Homo sapiens: one gene and its partners. The protein of the gene in region 1 purifies or fractionates together with the protein of each later gene. This does not show direct contact. Each region holds a gene or a part of one and is shown on either strand. Other genes may lie near its edges. The genes, in order: FSCN2, TBC1D22B, QRICH1 and SPECC1L.

The links.
Region 2: the proteins of FSCN2 (region 1) and TBC1D22B purify together in Homo sapiens (affinity purification with mass spectrometry; one large-scale study listed by BioGRID and IntAct). This does not show direct contact.
Region 3: the proteins of FSCN2 (region 1) and QRICH1 purify together in Homo sapiens (affinity purification with mass spectrometry; 2 studies listed by BioGRID and IntAct, with this or other methods). This does not show direct contact.
Region 4: the proteins of FSCN2 (region 1) and SPECC1L purify together in Homo sapiens (affinity purification with mass spectrometry; one large-scale study listed by BioGRID and IntAct). This does not show direct contact.

The regions. Positions count from the first base shown.
Region 1 is NC_000017.11:81,533,624-81,539,338, forward strand, and holds the end of FSCN2 (fascin-2), read left to right. Parts: intron 1-1,428; coding exon 1,429-1,585; intron 1,586-2,522; coding exon 2,523-2,644; intron 2,645-2,926; coding exon of another isoform or gene 2,927-2,998; coding exon 2,999-3,166; intron 3,167-3,251; coding exon 3,252-3,457; 3' UTR 3,458-3,507; downstream 3,508-5,715. UniProt on the Homo sapiens protein: Acts as an actin bundling protein. May play a pivotal role in photoreceptor cell-specific events, such as disk morphogenesis.
Region 2 is NC_000006.12:37,259,245-37,265,332, forward strand, and holds part of TBC1D22B (TBC1 domain family member 22B), read left to right. Parts: intron 1-6,088. UniProt on the Homo sapiens protein: May act as a GTPase-activating protein for Rab family protein(s).
Region 3 is NC_000003.12:49,054,550-49,060,637, forward strand, and holds part of QRICH1 (transcriptional regulator QRICH1), read right to left. Parts: intron 3,342-6,088; coding exon 2,313-3,341; intron 1-2,312. UniProt on the Homo sapiens protein: Transcriptional regulator that acts as a mediator of the integrated stress response (ISR) through transcriptional control of protein homeostasis under conditions of ER stress.
Region 4 is NC_000022.11:24,318,148-24,324,235, forward strand, and holds part of SPECC1L (cytospin-A), read left to right. Parts: intron 1-3,140; coding exon 3,141-4,771; intron 4,772-6,072; coding exon 6,073-6,088. UniProt on the Homo sapiens protein: Involved in cytokinesis and spindle organization. May play a role in actin cytoskeleton organization and microtubule stabilization and hence required for proper cell adhesion and migration.

The DNA of each region.
Region 1 (5,715 bases):
CCTAGCAGACACTTCTTCACACTCATTTGCCAGAACTGAGTCCCCCAACTGCTCAGCTAGCCCCTCTGGAGGGGGGTAAAACCAGTGTTGCCCAGACCAAGGCGGACTCCACTCCTCTCCTATTTTGAGGCCATGTCCCCGGAAGCAGGTGGCTGAATGAGTAGCCCCAGACAGCATCCTGTCTGAAGGGGGTGTGGGGCAACTCTGGGGACACCAAAGTGCTGGCCTGGGAGGTGCAGTGGCGGGGGGAGCCCTGCGATGCTGTGGCTTCCTTCAGTGCCCGCAGGGACGGCGTTCCCACACCTCTCATGGGCCCCTCCTGCGGGCTCCTGCTGCCCCCGGGTACCGTGTCAGTGTTGCCCTCCACTGGGCCCAGGCAGCTGCTTTTAGTTCAGTATTTGCCAGGATCTAGAGCTGGTGGCAGTGGGGATGCTGGCACGAATACTCGGTCACAGTGCAGGGGACATGCCGGGTGCTCCTCTGCGTCTGATCAGTGATGAGTGTGAGGGAGATCCCAGCCTGGGGCGTGAGGGGCAGCTTTGGGGCTGGCAGAAGGCAAAAGGTCCCAAGCTGTCTGGCATGGTCACAGCCTGGCATCCTCTCCCCTGGGCACAGCGTGGGATGGGATCTGGCCCCACCCTCAGGCCCTGTGGGGGCTCTGCCCACCACTCCCTCCCAGTCCCCAGCTGGACAGGCCACCAGAGTCCCTGGGCCTTGTGGGAAGCTCCGCAATCTGACACACCACTCCCAGTGTCTGGCTGCCATGCAAACAGGGAGGTGGTTTGTGGGAGGAGCCAGGGACTTAGTTCACAGAAGATCCTGGGTAGGCTCTGGTGCCTGCTGTCCCCATGCTGGGCATGGGTGCCCCTCCATCCCCTCGCAGGAACCCCAGATGGAGCCCGGGGCAGTCTTGTCCTCCCCCAGGGGTCCTGGGAGACCAAGCACAGATGGTTGGGGAAAGCTGCAGAGGTGACAGGGACCAGCCCCTGGCTGGAGCCCAGGGGTGCCCCATCACCATCCGCACCATCCCCTTCATTAGGTCCTGCCTGTGCCCATCCAGCAGCTTAGGGTGAGTTATAAATAGAGGCTGGGGTAAGCCCTGGGTCAAGAGAGCAGGGCAAGGAGATTACCAGCTGATTACTGATTAGCAGAGAGTGGGGGCTGTGCCAAGCAGAAGGGCCTGGCTCCTGGGGGTGTGGAGGGAGGTCAGGGCTCCCTTGGGGACAGTGTGCAGGGTCCACAGACGGCACATATGGCCCTGGGGCAGGGTTCCCAGGGTCTCTGAGAGGTGCCTTCCAAATCTTCTCAAGTCAAGAGGGTTCTAGATGAGACCCACCTCTGGCTTCAGGGGTGCCCCCCAAAATATGCCCCCTCCCCTGCTCCCTACCCAGGAGAGGCGTGAGGGGCTTCCCCATCTCCTCCCTCCAGGGGTCAACGTCTCAGCCAATCAGGATGATGAACTAGACCACGAGACCTTCCTGATGCAAATTGACCAGGAGACAAAGAAGTGCACCTTCTATTCCAGCACTGGGGGCTACTGGACCCTGGTCACCCATGGGGGCATTCACGCCACAGCCACACAAGTGTGAGTGCACACATCCCTTCCTCCTCCATCATCCCCATCCCCACCATCACCATCCCCATCATCACCATCCCCACCATCCGCATCCCCATCTCCATCCCCACCACCCCCACCCCCACCAGCCCCATCCCCATGACCACCATCCCCATCTCCACCATCTCCATCACCATCATCGCCATCCCCATCCCCATCATCACCATCCCTATCACCACCATCCCCATCATCACCATCCCCACCATCCGCATCCCCATCTCCATCCCCACCACCCCCACCACCACCAGCCCCATCCCCATCACCACCATCCCCATCTCCACCATCTCCATCACCATCATCACCATCCCCATCTCCATCACCACCATCCCCATCACCATCCCCATCTCTATCTCTACCATGCCCATCACCATCATCACCATCCCCATCTCCACCATCCCCATTACCATCTCCACCATCCCCATCTCCATCCCCACCATCCCCATCTCCATCCCCATCTCTGCCATCCCCACCATCACCATCCCCATCTCCATTTACATCCCCATCCCCATCCCCCTCACCATCCTCATCCCCATCCCCCTCACCATCCTCATCCCCATCTCCACCATCCCCATCTCCATCACCATCCCCCTCTCCATCCCCATCCCCATCTCCATCACCATCCCCCTCTCCATCCCCATCCCCATCTCCATCTTCACCATCCCCACCACCGTTCCCATCACCTGCACCATCACTCCCACCACCATCACTGCCTCGGCCATGAGGATTGCCGTAGCAGCTCAGTCAGAAAGGAAAGCCCACTGGGGCAGGGTAGCGCCTGATGGTGGTGGGTGTGTCAGTGGAGGGCAGGCTTCTGTCCCACTCCTTGGAACCTGAGGAGGATGGGGAAGTGAGACCCTGCACCCCCATCTCCTGCTGTCCTGAGGAGACCTTTTGCTGCTCCCTCCAGTTCTGCCAACACCATGTTTGAGATGGAGTGGCGTGGCCGGCGGGTAGCACTCAAAGCCAGCAACGGGCGCTACGTGTGCATGAAGAAGAATGGGCAGCTGGCGGCTATCAGCGATTTTGTCGGTGAGCACTCTGCCTGCCAGGTACTGGGGCAGGGGCTGTCTCCACCCAGGGAAAGGACCTGCCCAGACACCCCATCTCCACCAAGAGCTGGACCCTCCCCAGCCCACGGAACGGGTGCTGTCATGGAGTCATACTTGCTAGTCAAGATAACTCGTCTTGGCAAGGGAAACAGGTCTGAATGTCCTTATCTCCGCTGCTGGGAACCCCCTAGGCGCCTTGCCAAGGCCGCACATGAGGCAATGGCAGGCCTGGGTCCCTAAGTCCAGGTGTGGCGTTTCCCAGGGCCCCCACCCCGCCCGGCCTGGACAGGGAAGGTGGCGGGAGGGGCAGCGCAGCAGACGCTCTCCCCGCCAGGCAAGGACGAAGAGTTCACCCTCAAGCTCATCAACCGGCCCATCCTGGTGCTGCGCGGCCTGGACGGCTTCGTCTGCCACCACCGCGGCTCCAACCAGCTGGACACCAACCGCTCCGTCTACGACGTCTTCCACCTGAGCTTCAGCGACGGCGCCTACCGGATCCGAGGTGCGTGGCGGGGCGGGTGGGCACGCGGGAGCGGGGGTGGCAGCGGGCAGGTGGGCACCCCCGCCGACGCCGTCCCGTCCCCCAGGCCGCGACGGAGGGTTCTGGTACACGGGCAGCCACGGCAGCGTGTGCAGCGACGGCGAACGCGCCGAGGACTTCGTCTTCGAGTTCCGTGAGCGCGGCCGCCTGGCCATCCGCGCCCGGAGCGGCAAGTACCTGCGCGGCGGCGCCTCGGGCCTGCTGCGGGCCGATGCCGACGCCCCGGCCGGGACCGCGCTTTGGGAGTACTGAGGCCGCGCCCAGACCAGCCTGTCGCGCATTAAAACCGTGTCTCTCCCGCAGCTGTGGGTGGGCCCCGGGGCGCCGCTTGGGGGTCCTGCAGCTGGAGGTGGAGGAGGCCCACAATTCTCCCCAAACCAGAGAGAGCCCAGAACTTCCCAGTGCCCAGGGACTCCCGTCTGGGAGGTGGTCTTGTGGATGGGCCGGGTGACCCAGGCCGCTGGAGGGGAGGTCTCAAGGACATGGGGAGGACGGGGACTGGGGGTGGGTGGGGGACTGAGCCTGCGCGGGTTGAGGCCACCAACACCGACCACAGATGACCTCACTGGACACCGCCCCTCCCCAACCTAGGTCCTCAACCCTCCCTAGCCCCCGGCAGCCCCTGCGGTGCTCGTCCTTCCTTGTGCACTGCTCAAGGCCAGGCGAGTGGCAGAGGGTGGGGGAGAGCCAGTCCTGGGGAGGTGGGACCAGCACGGCCAGCAAGGGGAGGAACTGGCTGGGATGCCCCTCCACTAAGCCCACCAGCCTTAGGGACAAAGAAGGGCAGGTTTCCATGGTAAGAGGCTGGAACTCCCCGAGCCACGTGGGCAAGGCGGGTCCGAGTTAACCCTTGGAGGACCAGGTGCCACCTGGTCCAAGTTGGCAGGGAACGGCAGTGACCCTGGAGCTCGGGCTGTCCCTGCAGCCTGCAGTGTCCCCTGGTGGCAGCCAAGGTGAGGTGGAGTCTGTGGCTGGGGCGGGACTGGGGGCACCAGGTGGAACCGCAGTGGCTGGCACTCAGCACCTCCAGGCTCCCCGCTCAGCAGAGCCTCGGAGAGGGTCTGTCTCCCTGCACTGCCCTGCCTGACGTGAACTTGGCCTGCCACTGCGGGAACCCCCACTTCCGTCCACATCCACAGCCTGGGGCACGGCGGGAGGCAGAGGCTAGGAAGCGGAGGGTGGGGTGGGAGGTCAAAGAAACCCTTTGGAACGGAATAATGGCTGGGCCTGGAAGCGGGGGGCCCACTGCTGCTGCTGAGGCAGGTGCTACTCCATGCAGAGACAGCTGCCAGCAGCTGCCAGGTGGCGTCTAGCACATGCTCCTAGGAGGAGGGGGAAGAACAGCTGCTCTCACCCCACGTGTGAGCTGGGTTGAGGGTCATGCAAGGCTACGGTGTCAAGCCAGGATCGGAGTTGGAGCAGGTGGAGGAAGCTGGAAAGGTCGAGAGGCCGCCCCTGCCACCGGGGAAGGGCCTCACGTAGTGAGAGCTCAGGTGCTGAGAGCCCAGGAGGTGTGCACTGAAGAGGTGAGGGCAGGGAGGCCCAGGATGGGCGACAGGGCCCGGCCACACCGTGGTCCGCAGGCTCCCCGAGAAGCTGATTGTGGACCTGCCACCTGCCTCTGAGGCCAAGCCCTCCTCAAATGCCGAGTGTTGAGAGCAGGTTCCTTGGAGGTGCATGTGAGTTGGGTACATTTCGCCCAGTCCCTGTACACTCTGGCGGCACAGCGGGGCTGGGGACTGCCCACTGTGGTCCCTCCTTTCCTGCCGCTGTAGATCTCCTTTTTGTTCCACGTGACCTGCTCTCTTGGCCCCTCAGGGTCTGCGTCGCAGCTTTCTTTTCGGGGGGACCACATGGCGTCTTGAACTAGGCGTCCCCACAGCAGGATCTCAGGCTGGCAGGTGGGCATGAACATTTGTAAACACACCAGCACTGATGCCTCCACATGGGTGGCCCTGGAGAATGCCCCAACAGAGGTCAGGACAGCTGGGGACGCCGTCTCAGCCCTGGTGGCCAGCACCGCCTTAGTTCAGGAGGCTGCAGTGCCAAGGACAGCAAGCTATCTAAACCCCCAGTGTGTGCCCGGGGGTGTGGGGACACCAGTGCGGCTCATCCCTGTGTCTGCTCTTTCACAAGCCACAGTGGTGCCCCCACACCCCCTGCACAGCTGAGGCTGACAGGGTTGGATGGTGCCACTGCTCTGCACAGACAGCAGCCCCGTGGAAGGCCCCTCAGGCTCCCAGCCTCCTGAGACCTGCTGGCATCCAGCTGAGGGTGGGGAGATGAGTCCTGCAGGCGACCCAGATCTGTCAGCTCTGGGATCCCTGTGGCCTGTGATGGCGAGTGAGGGGCTGGCACAGCCCTGGACACACACCCCTCCCCCAGGCGTGTGAACACAGACCCTGCACAGTCCTCCGCCCGCTCATCTAGGGCCTTCTTGGGAGTCCCCACGGGCTGGTCTAGCCCCTCACTCTCCGAGCCCTGATGCTCAGAGCAAGACACGGGCACAA
Region 2 (6,088 bases), on another chromosome or scaffold:
AAGGAATGCAAAGATAACTTCAGATTAAAGTGCTGTGGACTCAACAGTGTTAATATTACTGTTAAAGATGTTCTGTGTTTTTAGGTAAGCACACTTCCTGCCAACTGATTCCTTTTCCTTCCTGGTCTAGTGAGCTCTCTAGTTGTGCTAACTGCTATTCTCTGGGGTTTTCCGTAGTGAGATCATTAAATTTTGACATCCTAAGATTATAATCATAATCAATAGGAAGACTGTTGTATCAGGAAGCAGTGTAAGAGATGTGGGACGTGGCATGGGCTTCTGTGCCTTCTGACTGCTGGTTGCTATTAACAATCTTTTTTTCCTATATTTCCTGTATTTGGCTATAAGAACAGTCAACTTTTTTAAAGCACTACTTTTCTGAGATAGGAAGAGAAGTCTTTTCAGTTTCTTCAAGTTTCTGGATTCCTTTTTCATTTTGAAGAATATAGAGAAATAGAGAACTTTCGAGTTCAGAAAGACTTGGGTTACTATTTGGGCTCTGTTGTGTGTGTGACCAAGACAAATAATCTTTCTAGGCCTCAATTTCCTTACCTATGAAATGAGAAATAAAAATACTTTCCTCAGAGTTACTGTGGGGACTAAGTGAAATACCCTATTTGTAAAGAGCCTAGGACAGTGTTTATTTAGCACATTATAGTTGCTCAAAAAAACAGTAGTTATTAACATTGCTGTCATTATTACAGCAAGTAAACATTTAAAATAATGTTACTCAGATCCTTACCCCAGCTCATTGTCTTCGTTGTTTAAGGTATTCAAATATTGTCACAATTCATAATAGTTTTTAGTACCTTACTTGGTAAAGAGAAATACTGTTCAGCTGTGTGCTTTTAGCAGTGAAGCCCACAAGCCTCTGGTCATAGGAGAAAACTAAGGTTCTTTTAGATAGAAAGGTACTTTGGTTTAAAGAAAATGTTAGGGCATTTTCTCAAGAATAGAACTTTTGCATCTGTACTCTTTCGGTCTTAGAGAAGAAAAACTTTCTCCTGGGTGGGGAAATGACACAAATGACTCTACTGGATGCATGCAAACTTGGAAATGAAACTAGTTTACTCTTCTTTGCAAATTGAAAGGTGAAAAATAAAAGCGATGACAGGGTTCTTTCCATTTGTCTGATCATGATCCAACAATCTTAGTGACAACAAATAGAAATTTTATTAAATAAAAGAAGTTGCAAATGAATGAAACATTCTTTTTAAAAATAACAGCTTTATTGAGATATAATTCACATACCATAAAATTCACTCTTTTAAAGTGTACAATTCAGTGGTATTTAGTATATTCATTTATAGTATAGATGGTTTTGTGCAACCATCACCACTAATTTCAGAACATTTTCATCATCCTGAAAAGAAACTACATACCTGTTTACAGTCACTCCCCATCCACCCCACTCCAGACCCTGGTAACTACTAACCTACTTTCTGTTTCTGTGGATTTACCACTTTTGGACATTTTATATATATGGAGTAATATGATCTGAGGCCTTTTGTGAGTGGCTTCTTTTATTAAGCACAGTGATTTCAGGCTTGTCCACGCTGTAGTATGTATCAGTACTTCATTCCATTTTATGGCTGAATAATATTCCATAGTATACATACACCACATTTTGTTCATTCATCAGTTGATGGATATTTGAATTGTTTTCACTTTTGGGCTATTGTACGTAATGCTTTTATGAACATTTATGCAGAGGTTTTTGTTTGGATATATATTTTCTATTCTTCTGCTGATAAATAGGAGTGGAATTGCTGGGTCATGTAGTAACTTGGTGGAACTAAGCATCTTTTAAGTTCTCTCAGTTATTCACATGAGCCCCATTTACTTAGCACATCAAATGGTCATTGTATTAATGCCTAGAAGATAAGAGGCAATCTCTACCATTGCAGGCTTTGGCAGGTGTGGTGGCCTGTAATCCCAGAATTTTGGAAGGCTGAGGCAGGTGGATCGCTTGAGGCCAGGAGTCCGAGACCAGCCTGGCCAACGTGGTGAAACCCCCCATCTCTACTAAAAATACAAATTAGCTGGGCTTGGTGGTGTGTGCCTGTAGTCCCAGCTACTCAGGAGGCTGATGCCCAAGAATCTCTTGAACCTGGGAGACGGAGGTTGCAGTGAACTGAGATTGCGTCACTCCACTCCAGCCTGGGCAACAGAGCAAGAGATTGTCTCCAAAAAAAAAAAAAAAAAAAAATGCAGGCTCTGAAATCTGACTGCCTAGGTTAAAATCCCAGCTCTGCTTTCTAGCTATGTGATCTTATGGGATTTAATTAACCTCTCAATGCATCAGTCTCCCCATCTCTAAAATAGGGACAGAGTATCTGCTCCATGGGGCTGTTATGAGGATTAAATGAGATAATACATAATAATTGGTTAGGAGGTACACAATAATATTAGCTATTATAAGAAGGATAGTTACGATGATAGTAGCTATCATTTTTGTTTTCTCTCCTTGCTTCAGTTTTTGAAACTGAAATTGAAAAGCTTTGATCTGGTTGGGTGTGGTGGCTCACACCTGTAATCCCAGCACTTTGGGAGGCTGAGACAGGTGGATCATTTGAGGTCAGGAGTTCGAGACCAGCCTGGCCAACATGGTGAATCTCCGTCTCTACTAAAAACACACAAAAAAATTATCTGGGCTTGGTGGCACAAACCTATGGGGGAAAAATAAAAAAGCTTTGGTCAGTGTGTGTGTGTGTGTGTGTGTGTGTGTGTGTGTGTGTGTGTGTGTGTGTGTCTAGAGCTCGGGCACAGGAGAAAAAAAAAATCACCTTTTTTTTTTTTTTTTTGAGATGGGGTCTCCCTCTGTTGCCCAGGCTGGAGTGCAGTGGCACGATCTCAGCTCACTGCAGCCTCTACCTCCCAGGATTAAACGAGTCTCCTGCCTCAGCCTCCTGAGTAGCTGGGATTACAGGCACATGCCACCATGCCCAGCTAATTTTTGTATTTTTAGTAGAGAAGGGGGTTTCGCCATGTTGGCCAGGCTGGTCTTGAACTCTTGACCTCAAGTGATCTCTTGACCTCAAGCCCACCTCAGCCTCCCAAAGTTCTGAGATTATAGGTGTGAGCCACCGTGCCCAGCCCTGGCTAATTTTTGTATTTTTTGTAGAGACAGGTCTTGCCATGTTGCCCAGGCTGGTCATGAACTCCTGGGCTCAAGCAGTCTGCCCACTTCATCCTCCAAAAGTGTTGGGATTACAGGCATGAGCCTCTGCGTCTGGCCAAAATCGAAATTACCTGAGTCTTCCAGGCCCTTCGTTGTTAGAAAGAGAGGCCAAGTTAAGAACTTGAAGCCGATCCTAAAATAATAATGAATCTGATAGGAGACTTAGTGTAAAAGTCACAGCCTGTCTGGGCAGGTACATTACAACTTGTTCTTGGCTTGGAGATGTTTTACTGGTAGAGTGAGTGACTAGAAGATACTAAATTATCATCGAAACAGCATAGATCACCTGTTCTGGAAGACTAATGTGGAGTGAGTGTGTGAACCTACATCAGTTGCCAACACGTTTGGCATTTAAATTTGATGGGTCTTTTTCCCATATTTGCACTAGCTCTTTTATCAGTGCTAAACAAACACCTGTTGATTTTTCCTACCAAGATGTTTGCACTGTTTCAACTAGGCAAAACAGCTATGTCAATACATTCTATGGTGTTGGTTTTATTAAAGAGAGTGACGGAGATTAATCAGAACTTTTGTTCCATTTTGTCTGCGTGGCAGCATATTCCATGGCATTCTTTTCTCTGCATATGTGGTGTGATTTCTTCGAGATGCAGTGTGTTAACTAACCTCTGGTTTTTAGGTCTAGCTTAAGTGGAGGCCTAGGTTTTGTAGAGATCTAATCTTCACTTACTAAATATTGTTAAGTGCCTGCTGGTATGTGTCATGCTCTGCCAGGTGGCAAGGGGGCTACAGAAAAAGATATGGCACCACTATGGCTTTCTAGGAGCTAAAAAATCTGCTTGGCATCATGGCTTCCCCTGGAGAAGATGCTGTGTATGATTGACTTTCTGGTTTTTCCACTAAACATATGTTATATTTGTAATCAGACAAACTTAAAAGTGGAATTGGGTGAAAACACATTGTTGAATGCAAAGAGCAAGATGTAGAAAGATATGTGCAATGTGCAGTCTTTTATGTGAAGTTTAAAAACATAAAAAATACTGTGTGTTGTTTATGGATCTGTGAATATATGTAGAGGAATAAAAACAGATGGGAGGAGTTCCCTCCAATTTCAGAATAATTGTTATCTCTTGGGAAGTGAAGAAACAGGACTAGGGACTGCAATTAGGGCATCAGTAGTCTAACACTTTGTTTTTGTTTTGTTTTGTTTTGTTTTTTTGACATGGAGTCTTACTCTGTTGCCAGGCTGGAGTGCAGTGGCCCGATCTCCGCTCACTGCAACTTCCGCCTCCCGGGTTCAAGCGATTCTCCTGCCTTGGCCTCCCGAGTAGCTGGGACTACAGATGCGTGCCACCACACCCAGCTAATTTTCTTGTATTTTCAGTAGAGATGGGGTTTCACCATTTTGGCCAGGATAGTCTTGATCTCCTGACCTCATGACCCACCCACCTTGGCCTCCCAAAGTGCTGGGATTACAGGCGTGAGCCACTATGACCGGCCTAACACTTTTTTTCTTAAATGAAATGTGACAAATGTTAACATTTGTAAATCAGAGTGATGGGTTTGTGGATGTTTATTATATCATTTTCTGTACTTTTCTTTGTGTTTGAAAATGTCAATTAAATGCTTTTTCACTTGTGTTAGAGCAAATGTTTTGTATTTTTTTTTTTTAACTTGTGTTGGAGAGATCAGCCAGTTAGCCATGGAATTAAGTAAAATTTAAAGTAACATGATTTAGAGTCAAAATAAGTCATATTTACAGTGTGATGTTATTTATATAAAGTTTAAAAAACATGCAAAATCATACATTATTTAGGGATACATACATAGAAAATAAAAATATAAAAATGAGTGTGAAAAATGCCAGATCCAATAGAGTGGCTTGCTAGGAAGGGAGGGAGGGGTATGCCAGGGTGTTTTGTTTTGTTTGGTTTTGTTTTGTTTTTGACACGGGGTTTCACTCTTGTTGCCCTGGCTGGAGTGCAATGGCACGATCTCGGCTCACCGCAACCTCTGCCTCCCAGACTCAAGCAATTCTTGTGCCTCAGCGTCCTGAGTAGCTGGGATTACAGATGTGTGCCACCAAGCCCAGCTAATTTTTATTTTTAGTAGAGATGGGGTTTTGCTGTGTTGGCCAGGCCAGTCTCGAACTGCTGGACTCAAGTGATCTGCCTGCCTCGGCCTCTCAAAGTGCAGGGATTACAGTGCCCAGCCCTGATTGTGTCTTATATTATGATCTAAATCTAGTTTATTTTTAAAAAGTAATATAAGCCCTAATTTATGTATGTTAGGGAACTAGAGAAGACATGAGTTAGTAGATGCTGGGGGTAGGGGTATGGAAAGTTTCATGAGGGGTGTAGAATTTGAAGAGAATGTTGCAGGATGGATACAATTTTGAAAAGGGATGTAGAAAATAGAAAAGCATTCCAAGTAGGGAAAAGAGCCTTATTTAATAATGGGTTTAATAAGTTTGGAAGGTGGAGTGGAGATCAGTCTTTCTTAGAGCTGAGTTTGGGTTTGGAAGGAGTAGGTATGGTACAGACAGTGAAAGGTGAATTATAAATGTCAGGAAATTGAGCACCTTAATCATTGGGCTCTTCTGGTCTATCTCCATTTAGTCTCTGTGATCATCTCGGTTTCTCTTTTCTAAATTCTTGCCTGTCTTTTTTAAGCTGCAATAAGCTGATTTATTATACAAAGTGTTCCAGTTTTAGATACATCATGGTTCAGTTCAAGAATATGTTAACAAATTCAATTTGGGCCCTGATACCTTTGCTGATGAAGTCCATCATTTATCTTAGCCTTCCTGGCTATGCCAGCACCTTGGGCTGACAGCTTTAAAAAATAGTCTACTGTGATTTTAAGATTCCTTTCCTAGATGGTAATTGATGGCCTCTGGCCCTTCAGCCTGCACAAATTAGGTTTGCTTTTCTTCTGCATGGGTTACTG
Region 3 (6,088 bases), on another chromosome or scaffold:
ATCCTTGGCTCTGTATTTATGCTGTTCCATTCTTTTGTTTATCTAAACTATAAACTACAGTTCAACAGTTCAAGGCAGGGTGCAGTGGCTCATGCCTGTAATCCCAACATTCTGGGAGGCCAAGGTGGGAGGATCACTTGAGGCCAGGAGTTCAAGAGCAGCCTGGGCAACACAGTGAGACCCTGTCTCTACAAATATATATATATGCCGAGTGTGGTAGTCTGTGCCTATAGTCCCAGCTACTTGGGAGGCTGAGGCGGGAGGATTTTATGAGCCCAGGAGTTAGAGGCTACAGTGAATTATGATCACTACCATACTCCTACCTGGGAAACAAAGCAACAACCTGTCTCAAAAATAAATAAACTACAGTTCAAACGTCATTTTGTCCACAAAGACCTCTGTTGACTTCTTAACCTAGAATTTCTAAATTCCCAGTTTGTCTTTGTGTATATGTCATAATTATTCTGCCTTATAAATAATTCGAAGGAAAAGAAATCCTGAGTTCTTACTTTTCACAACTAGACTCTAAGCTATATGAAGCAAAAAACCTTCTCTTATTCTATTTCTAGGCCCAACAGCTAGATATTTAGCAGGTCCTTAACAATGTCACCTAGGATAATATGATACTGCCTCTATGAAACCACCTGGTCAACCTTTGCTTAATTAATCACTTACAGCCCATGTTTCCAAGTGCAGTCCCTTATCTAACTTGTTTGTACCAGCTCCCACAAACATATGCATGCTCAGGAGCCTATGCCCACCGAGGCATAGCACCTTCATCAGTCCCATAAGACCAGAGGCCCTATATCCCACTCTAACGGGACCAGATATTTTACCAATCAGTTCTTTTAGACAGGGTCTCACTCTGTTCTCTAGGCTGAAATGCAATGGCATGATCATAGTAGCCTCAACCTCCCAGGCTCATGCAACCCTCGCATCTACGCTGGGACCACAGGTATGTGCCATCACACTAGACTATATTTTTTAAATTTTTGTAGAGATAGGGTCTTCCTATATTGCCCAGGCTGATCTCAAACTCCTGGGCTCAAGCATTCCTCCCACCTCAGCCTCCCAGACTGCTGGGATTACAGGCAACTGCCACTGCACCCAGCACTAATAGTTTTTTTGTTTGTTTGTTTTGAGACAAAGTCTTGCTATGTTGCCCCAGGTTGGAGTGCAGTGGCACGATCTCAGCTCACTGCAACCTCTGCTTCCCAGGTTCAAGCAATTCTCCTGCTTCAGCCTCCTGAGTAGGATTACCTGGGATTATAGGTGTGTGCCACCACACCCGGCTAATTTTTGTATTTTTAGTAGAGACGGGGTTTCACCATGTTGGCCAAGCTGATCTCAAACTCCTGACCTCTGGTGACTCACCCGCCTTGGCCTCCCAAAGTACTGGGGTAACATGCATGAGCCACCGTGCCTGGCCCCTACTTTTTTCTTTTGACAGAGTTTTGCTCCTGTTGTCCAGGCTGGAATGCAATGGCGCAATCTCAGCTCACTGCAACCTCTGCCTCCTGGGTTCAAGTGATTCTCCTGCCTCAGCCTCCCGAGTAGCTGGGATTACAGGTACCTGCCACCATGCCCAGCTAATTTTTGTATTTTTAGTAGAGACGTGGTTTCATCATATTGGCCAGGCTGGTCTCAAACTCCTGACCTTGTGATCCGCCTGCCTCGGCCTCCCAAAGTGCTGGGATTACAGAAGTGCACCACCTCGCCCGGCCGCCCCCGTAACACAAAAACTCTTGGGAGGTCCCACCACATAGACGGCATATTCAAGCCTCCCAATGGTGATCACTTTTAACAGGCTCCTTATGAGTTATTTTAGCTTTTCTAATTCACCCACACTGTGTGCCCAAAGATGAAAAACAGAATGAACAATCTCACAGCCTCTCCAGTGATGAGTTTGTAATCTATGTGATAAACTACAAGTGTTTTGCTAAAACCATTTACTTATGATACAAGGAAACAGCACTGGGACACACTTGAGGTGTCCCATTCATCTACACCTGTAACTTTACTCTTCCTGAGAAGAGATTACAAAGAAGTGTCCATGGTACTTAAACCCAAAATGTCTCCAAAACTCCAAAGCAATTCCTGGCCATCTCATTTACCTCCAGGTACCAGGATAAACTCTTTTTTCTGTTGCATAGCCTCACGTGATGTTTCTCCCCCTCTTCTCCCAAATACTAAATACTGCATCACTGTAAGAGTAACAGCAGTAAATAAGCCAGAGGTTGCGAGGCAAGCTCTGTGCTGCACTGGGCCCTGAGGGACCAGGCTGCCTGCCCTACTGATAAGTCTTCACTTACTGAACAAGTAACTTGGAGTTGCTGCTGCTGCTGCTGTGGTGGTGGTGTCTGTTCCTGGGGAGTTTGCTGCTGCGGCTGCTGTTGGGGGTCCCATATATGGACAGTTTGAGCCGTATTCTGGTACGTGCCTGCCACAGCCTGCACAGCCACTGGAATGTGGATGTTGCCATTCATGAACTGTGCTGGAAAGAGAGAGTTTGCAAGGGTCTGCACTACCTCTTCATGGGAGTTTTTCACTACAGATGTGGTGCCCACCATCTTCTCCTTGTCATCCTCCAGCTTAACAGCTGCCAGGGCTGTGGGTGAGCCACTGACGTGAACTGCGTTGTAGGCTTCCTGGGGAATGGCAATGTGGGTAATGCTCTGCTGCTGAGGGTCCCCCCGGGGCTGGGCAGAATAAACAGGGATGGTCCAGGTTTCTCCTGTAGGGCTAGTAATGGTCCCAGTGGCACTGTACAGGTGGGCACTGTCTACTGTCAGTAAGTCTGGCCTCAAAGACACATAACTCTGCTGCTGGCCCTGTGGAATGGCCAGCACGGTGGCCACCGGCTGCCCTGAGATGGCGTAGGACACAGTGATGGGCATGTCCACTTTGCGCTTCTTCACTGGTTGGAGGACACTGGCCGTGCCAACCCGCCGCTCCCCTTCCCGGGGTGAGCCCTGCTGGGATGGTGGTGGGGAAAGGGCACCCACGGTCTGGATTTGGATCTGCTGACCACCAGCAAGAGACTGGCCAGCCACCAGCTGAGCCTGGATTTGCTGATGTGGGATGTGCTCCTCCGGGATTTCTGCAGCCTGGATCTGCTGGGCTGCTTGCACGTGCTGCACCTGGATCTGAGCTGCTTGCAGCTGCGAGGGACTGGGACTCTGCAGAGACGGGGTCTGAATGGAGGGGGCTGCTGACTGTGGTGCCTGGCCTTGGATCTGCACCTGGACCTGGATGGGTTGCTCAGTAGGCTGGTGAACGGTGAGTTGTGGGGAGAGCTGAGCCGAGACCTGTTGCGGAGACTGCTGTACCTGCACCTGGACCTGTAAGCAACAAGATTCATCAGTGAGTGAACCAGGCAGCACTGAAAATCCAGTACCCAAGGAAAGAAAGAAAAGAGATCCCAGACAGGGGACCTGCAAAATGTGAGAAAACACTGGCATACTCAAGGCTTCTGAGAAGGACACAATACGTAAGACTAGATCCAGGATTGTCCAGCAGCACATTACAATAACAGGGACATATATCCACCCCAGAGAGCAAGCAAGACAATTAACTGGGGCCTAAAAAGGAAATACCAAAAAAAAAAATTTTTTTTTTTTAAGATGGACTCGCTCTGTCGCCCAGGCTGGAATGCAGTGGCGCAATCTCAGCTCACTGCAACCTCCGCCTGCTGGGATCAAGCGATTCTCCTGCCTCAGCTTCCTAGAGTAGCTGGGATTACAGACATGCTGGAGTCTAACAAGGAAATATCAAAACTTTGGTTCTTTTTTTTTTTCCCCAAATTCTCATTGTGTCGCCCAGGCTGGAATGCAGTGGTGCCATCTCAGCTCACTGCAATCTCCACCTCTCAGGCTCAAGCAATTCTTGAAGCCAGCCTCCCGAGTATCTGGGATTATAGACATGTGCCACCATACCCAGCTAATTTTTGTATTTTTAGTAGAGACGAGGTTTCACCATGTTGGCCAAGCTAATCTTGAACTCCTGACCTCAACTGGTCCACCCACCTCGGCCTCCCAAAGTGCTGGGATTACAGGTGTGAGCCGAAACGGCCGGCATTTTTATTTCCATTTTCTTTGAGGCGGAGTTTTGCTCTTGTTGCCCAGGCTGGAGTGCAGTGGCATGATCTTGGCTCACTGCAACCTCAACCTCCTGGGTTCAAGCAATTCTCTTGCCTCAGCCTCCTGAGTAGCTAGGATTACAGGAATGCATCACCATGCCCAGCTGATTTTGCATTTTTAGTAGAGACAGGATTTCTCCATGTTGGTCAGGCTGGTCTCGAACTCCCGACCTCAAGTGATCCGCCCACCTTGGCCTCCAAAACTGTTGAGATTACAGGCGTGAGCCACCACGGCCAGCATTTTAAAAATTGTTTTTGAAATGGAGTTTCACTCTTTTTTTTTTTTTTTTTTGAGACGGAGTCTCGCTTTGTCGCCCAGGCTGGAGTGCAGTGGTGCCATCTCAGCTCACTGCAAGCTCCGCCTCCCGGGTTCACGCCATTCTCCTGCCTCAGCCTCCCGGGTAGCTGGGACTACAGGTGCCTGCCACCACACCCGGCTAATTTTTTTTTTGTATTTTTAGTAGAGATGGAATTTCACCATGTTAGCCAGGATGGTCTCCATCTCCTGACCTCGTGATCCGCCCGCCTTGGCCTCCCAAAGTGCTGGGATTACAGGCGTGAGCCATCACAAGGGACCGTTTTTTTCTCTAAAGATAGGGTCTTGCTCTGTTGCCCAGGTTAGAGTACCGTGATAAGATGATAGGGCACTTTAAACTTCAAACTCCTCAAGTGATCCTCCCACCTCAGCCTGCTAAATAGCTAGAACTACAGGAACACCACCACCACACCCAGCTAATTTTTTTTTTTTTTTTTTAGACAGAGTCTCGCTGTTACCAGGCTGGAGTGCAGTAGTATGATCTCAGCTCACTGCAACCTCCGCCTCCTGGGTTCAAGCTATTCTCCTGCCTCAGCCTCCTGAGTAGCTGGGACTACAGACGCATGCCACCACCCCCAGCTAATTTCTGTATTTTTAGTAGAGACGAGGTTTCACCATGTTGGTTGGCCAGGATGGTCTCGATCTCTTGACCTTGTGATCCGCTCACCTTGGCCTCCCAAAGTGCTGGGATTACAGGCTTGAGCCACCATGCCTAGCCTTATTTATTTATTTTCTGAGATGGAGTTTCGCTCGTTCCCCAGGCTGGAGTGATATGGTAGTCACGGCTCACCGTAACCTCTGCATCCCGGATTCAAGCTATTCTCCTGCCTTAGCCTCCCAAGTAGCTGGGATTACATGTGCCTGCCATCACATCCAGCTAACTTTTTTTTTTTTTTTTTGAGACGGAGTCTCGCTCTATCGCCCAGGCTAGAGTGCAGTGGTGCGATCTCGGCTCACTACAACCTCCACTTCCCCGGTTCAAGCGATTCTCCTGTGTCAGCCTCCCGAGTAGCTGGGACTACAGGTGCGTGCCACCACGCCCGGCTGATTTTTTTATTTTTAGTAGAGACAGGGTTTCACCGTGTTAGCCAGGATGGTCTTGATCTCCTGACCTCATGATCCGCCCACCTCGGCCTCCCAAAGTGCTGGGATTACAGGCGTGAGCCACCACGCCCAGACCTAATTTATATATACATATATATGTTTTTGAGACCAAGTCTCGCTCTGTCGCCCAGGCTGGAGTGCAGTGGTGTGATCTCAGCTCACTGCAAGCTCCGCCTCCCAGGTTCATGCCATTCTCCTGCCTCAGCCTCCCAAGTAGCTGGGACCACAGGCACCCGCCACCACGACTGGCTAATTTTTTGTATTGTTATTAGAGACAGGGTTTCACCGTGTTAGCCAGGATGGTCTTGATCTCCTGACCTCGTGATCTGCCTGCCTTGGCCTCCCAAAGTGCTGGGATTACAGGTGTGAGCCACCACACCCAGCCCTAATTTTTGTATTTTTAGTAGAGACGGGGTTTCACCATGTTGGCCAGGCTGGTCCAAAACTCCTGACCTCAGGTGATCCACCAGCCTTGGCCTCCCAAAGTGCTGGGATTATAGGCGTGAGCCACCATACCCAGCCCCCAGCCT
Region 4 (6,088 bases), on another chromosome or scaffold:
ACTTTGGGAGGCCAAGGCAGGCTGCTGGGAGGTGGATGTTGTAGCAAGTCGAGATCACGCCACTGCACTCCAGCCTGGGCACCATTGAGCAATGAGTGAAGGAGACTCCGTCTGCAATCCCGGCACCTCGGGAGGCCGAGGCTGGCAGATCACTCGCGGTTAGGAGCTGGAGACCAGCCCGGCCAACACAGCGAAACCCCGTCTCCACCCAAAAAATACGAAAACCAGTCAGGCGTGGCGGCGCGCGCCTGCAATCGCAGGCACTCGGCAGGCTGAGGCAGGAGAATCAGGCAGGGAGGTTGCAGTGAGCCGAGATGGCAGCAGTACAGTCCAGCTTCGGCTCGGCATCAGAGGGAGACCGTGGAAAGAGGGGAGAGGGGAGAGGGAGAGCCAGATTTTCTTTTTTATAAGGATTTTTGATTTAGATAAGGATGTGGTACCACTTGCAGAACTAGGGAAAGGAATTAATGTTGGGGAAAAAAGTTACCCCAGCCAGGTGCGATGGTGCACGCCTGTAATCCCAGCACTTTAGGAGGCCAAGGTGGGCAGATCACTTGAGCCTAGGAGTTCAAGACCAGCTTGGGCAACATGCCCAATGTGGTGAAACCCCGTCTCTACAAAAAATACAAAAATTAGCTGGGTATGGTGGCGTGTGCTTGTAGTCCTAGCTACTCGGGTGGCTGAGGTGGGAGGATCACCTGAGCCTGGGAGGTAGAGTTGCCGTGAGCTGTGATGGCACAACTGCACTCTAGCCTGGGTGACAGAGCCTCAAAAAAAAAAAAAAAGTTATGCCATCTTTTTCCATTTTTGGCCTCCGTATACAGTTGTTTATCCCAGTCTGGTTACTCTTGCCTTTGATATCTGTCACAGATTTCTTGCCTCTTCTCTGTTCTTACTGCCGCCCCTGAATGTGGGACCTCTTTTACCTCATTGATCTACCTGCCCACATTCCTCCTCTGCTGCTCTGCTTTCTTCCTTATGTATTCCACTTAGAATCTGTATTAGTCCATTCTCATGCTGCTGTAAAGAACTGCCCCAGACTGAGTAATTCATAAAGAAAAGAGGTTTAATTTACTCACAGGTCCACAGAGATGGGGAGGCCTCTGGAAACTTAGAATTATGGTGGAAGGGGTAGCAGGCACATTCTTCTCCACATAGTGGCAGGAAGGAGGAGAATGAGAGCCAAGCAAAGGGGAAGCCCCTTACCATCGGCTGTCATGAGAACTCACTATCACGAGAACAGCGTGAGGGTAACTGCTTCCATGATTAAATTACCTCCCAACAGGTCCCTCCCGAAACACATAGGGATTATGGGAACTACAGTTCAAGATGAGATTTGGGTGGGGACACAGCCAAACCATATCAGTATCCTCTAGATTAATTTTCATAAAATGTACTTTTCCTTACATTTCTTTCCTACTCAGGATCATTTATTGACTTAGTGTGACTCACTGAATTCTGCCTATCTTTTGGGACTCTATATGAACATTCCCCAGCAGCTTCCGTTAACTGTGTGACTGTACTTTTCCTTTCTGTGTGCCATGTTCACTTCTGCTTCCTTTCGTTGTCTGTCTTTTTGCCAGCCTGAATTCCGCATCCTCCTGTATACCTGTTCTGTTAGTGGCTATCTCCCTCTATCTGTGGAGATCATTTGCTCCCTGTTACCTCTACAGCCTGGATCCCACCACCTAATGAACCAGCAGGGTCTTTAAAAATACTTATTGATTAGATGTGGATCTTATTTTTTAACATAAAAATTTGTTATTTCTTAAGTATTTACAGGTATTTAAACATATTCCTGGCCAGGTGCGGTGGCTCACGCCTGTAAGTGCGGTGGCTCACGCCTGTAAATTCAGTGGCTCACGCCTGTAATCCCAGCACGCTGGGAGACCGACGCGGGCAGATCATTTGAGGTCAGGAGTTTGAGACCAGCCTGGCCAACATGGTGAAACCCTATCTCTACTAAAAATACAAAAAAATTAGCCAGGCATGGTGGCACGCTCCTGTAATCCCAGCTACTTGGGAGGCCTAGGAAGGAGAATCGCTTGAACCTGGGAGTCAGAGGTTGCAGTGAGCCGAAATCGCTCCACTGCACTATAGCCTGGGTGATGGTCAAGAGAGACTCCATCTCAAAAAAAACCAAAAAAACGAACAAAAAAAACTTCCTGTTCTTTTTGTATTAAACAAATGATTGTGTCAGTTTTCACAGGTTTAAAATTTTAGTAGTTAAGTAATCATGTGATTCACGTAGATTTGATTGACGCATCATCATTATTTAACATTAGTGCTTCGTTGTTTTTTACATTTAGAGAGACAGTATAACATACTGGTTAAGGTGCAAAATCTGGAACCAGACTGCCTGGGTTTCAATTTTGGCTCATCTATTTATTACCTGTGACATGTTGGCAAATTATTTAACATCTGTGTCTGAGTTTCTTCATCTGTAAAACAAGGTGATAATAGCACCTACCTCACGTCTTTAATGAGGCTTATATAAGTTAATGTATGTGAAGTGTTAATGTATTTGTATAACCAAGTGCTAGGTATGTGTTAGCTATTGTTATAATTGTTATTATTTATGTGGCATTTTATGGTGTTAAAACTATTTTGCATTTACTTTGGTCAGAGTAAAATTTTTGTGTTTCTAGTAGGTAGCTTAGATTTTTGGTTTTCCCAGAGACTGCTTTTCCCTTCTTGCCCACCTATGATCTCCCTTCACTATCTGTGTACAGTTAGTTTACCACCGACTGGCTAATCCTGGAGTCATCTTCACCTGTCTTGCCCTAGAATATTATGCCTCTGGCCAACTGGTTAAAACCCCACTTCTGGATTCAAGTTAATGTATATCATTTAAATAACAGCTTTGTAGAAATGTAATTCACATTCCATAAAATTTACTCTTTTAAAAACATGTAAAACAAAGTGTATAACTTATTTCTCCTTGATAATTAAAAGATGAATGATCTTCTGGTTTTGAAGAAATTGAACTTTAACAGACTCTAAGGCAAGATTATTGTAGATCTAAATCATTGTGTAGATCCTGGATTTCATCTCATTACACCTGGGGCAGGAACTGTGTATTCTATGTAGCCTTTTATTGCTGACATTTTTGCCTTACATTTTTTGTATTAAACACATAGGCACAGCTTCTTCAACCAAGCGGAGCACTTCTACAGGTAATAAAGAATCCAGTTCTACTAGAGAAAGATTACGTGAACGTACCCGATTAAACCAGAGCAAAAAACTACCTTCTGCAGGTCAGGGAGCTAATGACATGGCATTGGCCAAACGTTCCCGCAGTCGAACTGCTACAGAATGTGACGTTCGTATGAGCAAGTCTAAGTCAGACAATCAGATCAGTGACAGAGCTGCTTTGGAGGCCAAAGTGAAGGATCTTCTCACGCTGGCAAAAACCAAAGACGTAGAAATTTTACATTTGAGAAATGAACTGCGAGACATGCGTGCCCAGCTGGGCATTAATGAGGATCATTCTGAGGGTGATGAAAAATCTGAGAAGGAAACTATTATGGCTCACCAGCCGACTGATGTGGAGTCCACTTTATTGCAGTTGCAGGAACAGAATACTGCCATCCGTGAAGAACTCAACCAGCTGAAAAATGAAAACAGAATGTTAAAGGACAGGTTGAATGCATTGGGCTTTTCCCTAGAGCAGAGGTTAGACAATTCTGAAAAACTGTTTGGCTATCAGTCCCTGAGCCCAGAAATCACCCCTGGTAACCAGAGCGATGGAGGAGGAACTCTGACTTCTTCAGTGGAAGGCTCTGCCCCTGGCTCAGTGGAGGATCTCTTGAGTCAGGATGAAAATACACTAATGGACCATCAGCACAGTAACTCCATGGACAATTTAGACAGTGAGTGCAGTGAGGTCTACCAGCCCCTCACATCGAGCGATGATGCGCTGGATGCACCATCCTCCTCAGAGTCGGAAGGCATCCCCAGCATAGAGCGCTCCCGGAAGGGGAGCAGCGGGAATGCCAGTGAAGTGTCCGTGGCTTGCCTGACTGAACGGATACACCAGATGGAAGAGAACCAACACAGTACAAGTGAGGAACTCCAGGCAACCCTGCAAGAGCTAGCTGATTTACAGCAGATTACCCAGGAACTGAATAGTGAAAACGAAAGGCTTGGAGAAGAGAAGGTTATTCTGATGGAGTCTTTATGTCAGCAGAGCGATAAGTTGGAACACTTTAGTCGACAGATTGAATACTTCCGCTCTCTTCTAGATGAGCATCACATTTCTTATGTCATAGATGAAGATGTAAAAAGTGGGCGCTATATGGAATTAGAGCAACGTTACATGGACCTCGCTGAGAATGCCCGTTTTGAACGGGAGCAGCTTCTTGGTGTCCAGCAGCATTTAAGCAATACTTTGAAAATGGCAGAACAAGACAATAAGGAAGCTCAAGAAATGATAGGGGCACTCAAAGAACGCAGTCACCATATGGAGCGAATTATTGAGTCTGAGCAGAAAGGAAAAGCAGCCTTGGCAGCCACGTTAGAGGAATACAAAGCCACAGTGGCCAGTGACCAGATAGAGATGAATCGCCTGAAGGCTCAGCTGGAGAATGAAAAGCAGAAAGTGGCAGAGCTGTATTCTATCCATAACTCTGGAGACAAATCTGATATTCAGGACCTCCTGGAGAGTGTCAGGCTGGACAAAGAAAAAGCAGAGACTTTGGCTAGTAGCTTGCAGGAAGATCTGGCTCATACCCGAAATGATGCCAATCGATTACAGGATGCCATTGCTAAGGTATTGTTTAAATAGATTAAAATGTTCCGGACAGCATTAGGCAGCTGCCATGCACAGTGTTTACTGAGAACCTGGGTTACTGGTTTGGTTTGGTGTGTTATTAGCTTTTTTTTAAAACTGATATTTTTAAAACTTGGGAATGGTTTCCTTTTATTGGAATAGTGTGAAAAGTATTCTTAAGATAATGTCACTTTCTCTCACTTGTATTTTGTTTCTGTTTTCCTGCCTGTGAGAGGATATGGCTGGTATTACAGCTAAAACCAGAATTTGTCCCTAGTTCTGAGTATTCCTATGGAGCGGGTCATGAAATTTTACCTCCCCCCGCCTCATCTCGAATCTGTTTTGGTGTAATAGGTGGAGAGTCAGTATTCCAGTCTGTAGCATCAGCAGTGCATGTTTCCTCTTATCTTGCTATAGTAATAGTTTTTCAAATAGAGATCTGTTGATAGTTAAAAAATATTTTTGGCATATAGAGGCTCCTGTTTCTCAGAGGCCTGTGATTTATTGCTGGCAGGGACCTTAGCAATTATCAGTCCAGACCCTTGTTGTACATGCCTCCAGCATAATAGTGAGGACTCAGTTGGAACTGCTACCCAGGGCCACTGGCATTCTGGCCAGGGATCTATCTATACCCCATGTGGTTGCTGATGAACTGTTTATTTCCATGAGTTATTCTAGTTATACTAGTTATTCTAGCTTACATTTTATTTATTTGTTATTTTAGTGCAATGATTTTAAAATAAATTTTCATATATCTTTGGCTAAAATTTGAGTAATTTAGATTTTAGGGTGTTTTTAGTGATCACTTTTAAAGTTACAGTTTAGGAGATTTGTATTAGTTCTTGGCACATACATGTTGAGAGGCTACTGTGAACTAATACTTTTGTAAAAACACTATTTGAGAATTGTTTTCCCTTTTTCAGTTTGATACTGGAACCGTCACAAATATGACATCATTTTTGTTAGGACAACATGTTAATCATTAAACAAACGTACATGCTTTCAGTCCAAAGTTAGGAGAAACGAAAATTTCCAAAGTTTCCTTGTAAATAATCAGGTTAAGTTCAATGATACATCAATATAATTTCAGTCAGTGTTACAGCAACAGTTTAAGTGTATTAGATAAAATCTTACCATGGAGTGCTTTTTCATACTTTTTAACAGTTATTACACAGGTTGTTTTAGTTTATCCATAGTGCCTCATACTTAGCTCCCCTTGGAAACTGTGTGTACCTCAATTCTGGAACGTACCTTAGAACAACTCTTAACTTTTCTAAATCTGCATCGTCAATTTTACGTAGGTAGAGGATGAATACC